Regions from separate parts of the Homo sapiens genome. Here region 2 is linked to region 1. The links come from fine-mapping of genetic effects on gene expression. Tissue or cell type: whole blood. Region 1 holds a variant in brackets; the other region holds the start of a gene. All regions are shown on one strand. Distances are from middle to middle.

Region 1 (2,753 bases):
TGGCTTCTCATCTGTCACCCGGTGCTGCAGCCTTCCTTCCATCCTTCAGAATGGCCACACTAGACCCACTCAGCCAGCATTGCCTGAGCTCTCGCTGGGCACCTGGTCCTGTGCCATGCAAAAGGATGAAGGGCTGTGGTGGCTCCAGAGGAAGAGGCCCAGGCCCTCAGCAGCCCCTTTCTAGTTGTTGAGATAACACCCTGGTAAAAGCACAAGCCAGCTGACGGCACGAGGGTGCTACACTGCCCAATAGAGAGCCACCAGCCACAGTGGCAACTGAACACTTGCAGTGTGGCCTGTCCGAATGACACAGTGCTTTAAGTGTGAAATACTAGATTTTGAAGATTTGGTGGGGGAAAAATGAATATAAAATATCTCAGTATTATTTTTATAATATGGATTACATGCTAAGTTAATATTTGGGAAATATTGAGTTAAATATACTGCTAAGACTAATCCCACCTATTCCTTTTTGCTTTTTAAAACGTGGCTACTATATGGGTGGCTCACATTGTATTCCTATTGGGCAACACTGGTCTAGAGCCTCAAGCCAATGGCCGTGGGATGTCTGGGTTGGTGTGGTCCCCATGGAGCAGGCTCCTGGAGGAGGTGGCTCCCTGAGAGCCCTGAAGGACGGGCAGGATTGTTATTTGGCTTGTTGAGAGGCCTCTGAGTGGTCCAGAGGTGGGGAAGTCAGAGGCTCCATTCTTCCCAGCGGTCAGGAGGTGGGGACTGAGGCCCTGGCTGCTGCAGGGGCTCCCCAGGGAGAGCTTGTTCCCTGAGGCTGTGGCACCGGGGGCTGACCCCGTGTCTTCTGTGTCACCCCAATTGCCCAGGAGCGCCTGGCCCAGCTGGCTCGTGAGGACGCTGAGCGGGAGCTGAAGGAGAAGGAGGCCGCTCGGCGGAAGAAGGAGCTCCTGGAGCAGATGGAAAGGGCCCGCCATGAGCCTGTCAATCACTCAGACATGGTGGACAAGATGTTTGGCTTCCTGGGGACTTCAGGTGGCCTGCCAGGCCAGGAGGGCCAGGCACCTAGTGGCTTTGAGGTACCAGGCTAGGGACAGGGGCTCCAGAGGCCCACACACACCGCTTGTGTTGATCCTCCCTCCTTCTGTGCCCTTGGCCTTAAAGCCCACCCAGTCCCTCTGAACAGTGGGGAGCAGAGATGAACTGGGTCCGGGCTGCAGGTCCCAGGTCCTGTCCCTCTCCAACGCCCTTCTCAAGTTTTTTTTTTTGTTTTTTTTTTTTTT[T/G]TTTTTTTTGAGATGGGGTCGTACCCTGTTGCTCAGGCTGGAGTGCAGTAGCGTGATCACAGCTCACTGCAGCCTTGAACTTCTGGGCTCAGGCGATCCTCCCACCTGAGCTTCCTGAGTAGCTGGGACTCCAGGGCATACCTCTTGTCTCCTTCAGGACCTGGAGCGAGGGCGGAGGGAGATGGTGGAGGAGGACCTGGATGCAGCCCTGCCCCTGCCTGACGAGGATGAGGAGGACCTCTCTGAGTATAAATTTGCCAAGTTCGCGGCCACCTACTTCCAGGGGACAACCACGCACTCCTACACCCGGCGGCCACTCAAACAGCCACTGCTCTACCATGACGACGAGGGTGACCAGCTGGTAAGGCCTGCCTGTCACTAGGTCACTGCTGGGTGGGGCCAGGGCTGGGGCTATGGACTCTGCTGCTGGTGGTGGCCGTAGGTGATGAGGGTGGTGGGTCCCTGGGGGCCAGGGACCAGGTCTGACTATAGTCTTCACTGCGGTGCCCAGCCTGAGGGCTGACCATGCGGGAGGGGGTGTCTCCAGCCCACTCCCCAAACCGCCAGGTCATTTTGACAGCTTTAGCAATGTCCTCCGCTCTGGCCTCTGACATGCGCGCTCTGCCCCAGGCAGCCCTGGCGGTCTGGATCACCATCCTCCGCTTCATGGGGGACCTCCCTGAGCCCAAGTACCACACAGCCATGAGTGATGGCAGTGAGAAGATCCCTGTGATGACCAAGATTTATGAGACCCTGGGCAAGAAGACGTACAAGAGGGAGCTGCAGGCCCTGCAGGGCGAGGGCGAGGTGAGGCCAAGGTGCCCTCTGGATGATGTCCCTCCCAGGCCGACAAGGAGGGCCGCTGGCATCACCAGCCTTGGGCTCCTCTGCAGAAAAAGGATCCTATAATTCATCTCTGCCTCACCGACCCCTGCCTGCCACCCTCCTTTGTCTACTTGTGGGAACAAATGTGTGCAACTTTTATAAACTGTAAAGTGCTGACCATAACTGAGGGGCCTCATGGCAGAGCAGACAGGGGCTTTGCAGTTGGAGCCAGCTCCCGTACTATGTTTTTCTGAGTCTCAGTTTTCCTGACTGCCAGTTGGCTAGTGGGGGTGCAAGGGTAGGGGTGAGCAGGTGGACGGTGGCAGTGTGGGGGACACCCTGTAAGCTTCACGTGGAAGCGAGACGGTTCCCCGCAAAGTCTTGCTGTCGGGGGTCTCGACATTGCTTTCTGCTCAGCCACTTGACCCTGATCCCTGCTGGTCCTGCAGGCCCAGCTCCCCGAGGGCCAGAAGAAGAGCAGTGTGAGGCACAAGCTGGTGCATTTGACTCTGAAAAAGAAGTCCAAGCTCACAGAGGAGGTGAGGGCAGACGCTGGGGGTCTGGCAGCCCAGGGGTGGCTGCCTTAGGTGGCCTAGGCTGGAGCACAGCTGAGCTGGGGGCCCACGGAAGCAGGAGCAGGAGTGGACACTGTCTGTCCTCAGGGGTCTTGGCTGGCCA
Region 2 (2,753 bases), 54 kb before region 1:
GAGGGGGGACTTGAGGAGTGGCCAGTACTGGGTTTCGGCAGCAGGTGCAAATCCCAGGTGGGGACTGTGTTCCAGGGACTCCTGGACTCCTGTTAGGCCAGCAGGCTAAGGGGCAGACGGCATCCTGGGGTCTTCCTGGGACAGGGTCGTCGGGTCTGAGGGGACCCAGGCCCTAGCAGAAGCTGACTCCTGTCACGGTCACTTCCCAGCGGTGCTCAGCCCGCCTGACGGAAGCAGCTGGGCAGTGGGGCCTGTGACCAGCAGGCGGCGCTGGCGAGCTATAGCGCCCCTTTGGGCCCCCACCCCACCTTCTGGGCAGCTTCCCTGCAGACACCCCAGTTATGGGGGCTAGGGACCCAAAAGAGACATCCTTCTGCCACCCAGAGCTGCCCTGGCGAGGTGCACTATGGGGCCGCCGACAGCTGCGTGGCTGCCGAGGGCGGAAAGGAGAAACTGTCATGTCCCGATAGGGCCGCGCGAGGTCTCCATCCTCGACAACGCTAATAACAAAGACGTGTGCTCCTCTTTGCTTGGTTCCCCCCACTCCTTTAAATCACAGATTTCACTTCAGTTTATCTGTGTCGCTGTCACACGTGGGGTGGCTCCCAGTCAGCTGGTTTGGCAAAGTTTCTGGATGATTACGGAATAACATGTGTCCCCAACCCGCAGAGCAGGTTGTGGGGGCAATGTTGCATTGACCAGCGTCAGAGAACACACATCAGAGGCAAGGGTGGGTGTGCAGGAGGGAGAAGGCGCAGAAGGCAGGGCTTTAGCTCAGCACTCTCCCTCCTGCCATGCTCTGCCTGACCGTTCCCTCTCTGAGTCCCAAACAGCCAGGTAGAGGAGGAAGAAATGGGGCTGAGACCCCAGCACATCAGTGATTAAGTCAGGATCAGGTGCGGTTTCCTGCTCAGGTGCTGAGACAGCAGGCGGTGTCCTGCAAACAACAGGAGGCACCTGAAGCTAGCCTGGGGGGCCCACGCCCAGGTGCGGTGCATTCAGCAGCACAGCCAGAGACAGACCCCAATGACCCCGCCTCCCTGTCGGCAGCCAGTGCTCTGCACAGAGCCCTGAGCAGCCTCTGGACATTAGTCCCAGCCCCAGCACGGCCCGTCCCCCACGCTGATGTCACCGCACCCAGACCTTGGAGGCCCCCTCCGGCTCCGCCTCCTGGGAGAAGGCTCTGGAGTGAGGAGGGGAGGGCAGCAGTGCTGGCTGGACAGCTGCTCTGGGCAGGAGAGAGAGGGAGAGACAAGAGACACACACAGAGAGACGGCGAGGAAGGGAAAGACCCAGAGGGACGCCTAGAACGAGACTTGGAGCCAGACAGAGGAAGAGGGGACGTGTGTTTGCAGACTGGCTGGGCCCGTGACCCAGCTTCCTGAGTCCTCCGTGCAGGTGGCAGCTGTACCAGGCTGGCAGGTCACTGAGAGTGGGCAGCTGGGCCCCAGGTAAGGATGGGCTGCCCACTGTCCTGGGCATTGGGAGGGGTTTGGATGTGGAGGAGTCATGGACTTGAGCTACCTCTAGAGCCTCTGCCCCACAGCCACTTGCTCCTGGGACTGGGCTTCCTGCCACCCTTGAGGGCTCAGCCACCACAGCCACTGAATGAAACTGTCCCGAGCCTGGGAAGATGGATGTGTGTCCCCTGGAGGAGGGAAGAGCCAAGGAGCATGTTGTCCATCGAATCTTCTCTGAGCTGGGGCTGGGGTTAGTGGCATCCTGGGGCCAGGGGAATAGACATGCTGTGGTGGCAGAGAGAAGAGTCCGTTCTCTCTGTCTCCTTTGCTTTCTCTCTGACACTCTTTATCTCCGTTTTTGGATAAGTCACTTCCTTCCTCTATGCCCCAAATATCCCATCTGTGAAATGGGAGTATGAAGCCCCAACAGCCAGGGTTGTAGTGGGGAAGAGGTAAAATCAGGTATAGACATAGAAATACAAATACAGTCTATGCCCCCTGTTGTCAGTTGGAAAAGAAATTAACTTGAAGGTGGTCTAGTTCTCATTTTTAGAAATGAAATGTCTGTCTGGTCATTTTAAAATGTGGCCCTTAAATTTCACGCCCTCACCACTCTCCCCCATCCCTTGGAGCCCCATGTCTCTAGTGAAAGCACTGGCTCTGCCCCCAGCCCTCATGGCTCATGCTGGCATAGGGCGCCTGCTCCACAGCCTGGGCACCATCTTCAGACAAGTGCCCGGTGGCAACTGCCTGCTGGCCCTGTTGAATCCACATCTCCACCAGGCATCCAGACTAGTTCAGGTCTCTGGAAGGACTGTGGGTTTGCTGTGTCCCAGAGCTCCAGGGCAGGGGTCAGGGCTCGGATGTCGGGCAGTGTCATGGGCAGAGGATCGAATGCCCCGGCGGCTCTGAATGGGCCCTTGTGAAAAATTGATGCGCATTCTAGGAGACAGGTTGGGAGCCAGAGGGGCCTCATACCAGGGTCTGTAGGCTGGGGCTGCCTTTTAAGCTCCTTCCTGAGGCCGTCTCTGGGTCTGGCCCTGTGCTGGACAAGGCTGGAGACAAGGCAATGTCTCAGACCCTCTCCCATTGGCCACATCCTGCCCTGGATCAACTCGCCAACTTTGGGGGCAGAGGTGGGACTGACCCTTACCCTGACAACATAATGCATATAGTCAAAATGGGATAAAGGGGAATATAGAGGCTCTTGGCAGCTTGGGAGTGGTCAGGGAAGGCTTCCTGGAGGAGGTATCATCTGAACTGAGCCATGAACCATAAGTGGAAATTCACTAG

Evidence for each region. PIP is the estimated chance that this variant, and not a neighbour inherited with it, causes the effect.
Region 2: it holds the start of MYO7A, and the variant in region 1 is fine-mapped to the expression of MYO7A in whole blood (INTERVAL, PIP 0.94).

The regions. Positions count from the first base shown.
Region 1 is chr11:77,180,544-77,183,296 of GRCh38, forward strand. MYO7A (myosin VIIA) reads left to right here. Exons shown (of 49, transcript NM_000260.4): 23 at 837-1,046; 24 at 1,408-1,611; 25 at 1,881-2,057; 26 at 2,525-2,614. Among named protein-coding and RNA genes, the nearest start is that of MYO7A, 54 kb to the left of the region's middle. RefSeq lists an enhancer at 2,070-2,570. The variant T/G (reference allele first, on the strand shown) is at 1,251.
Region 2 is chr11:77,127,039-77,129,791 of GRCh38, forward strand. MYO7A (myosin VIIA) reads left to right here and starts at 1,208. Exons shown (of 49, transcript NM_000260.4): 1 at 1,208-1,451. RefSeq lists enhancers at 1-616, 617-1,340, 2,063-2,753.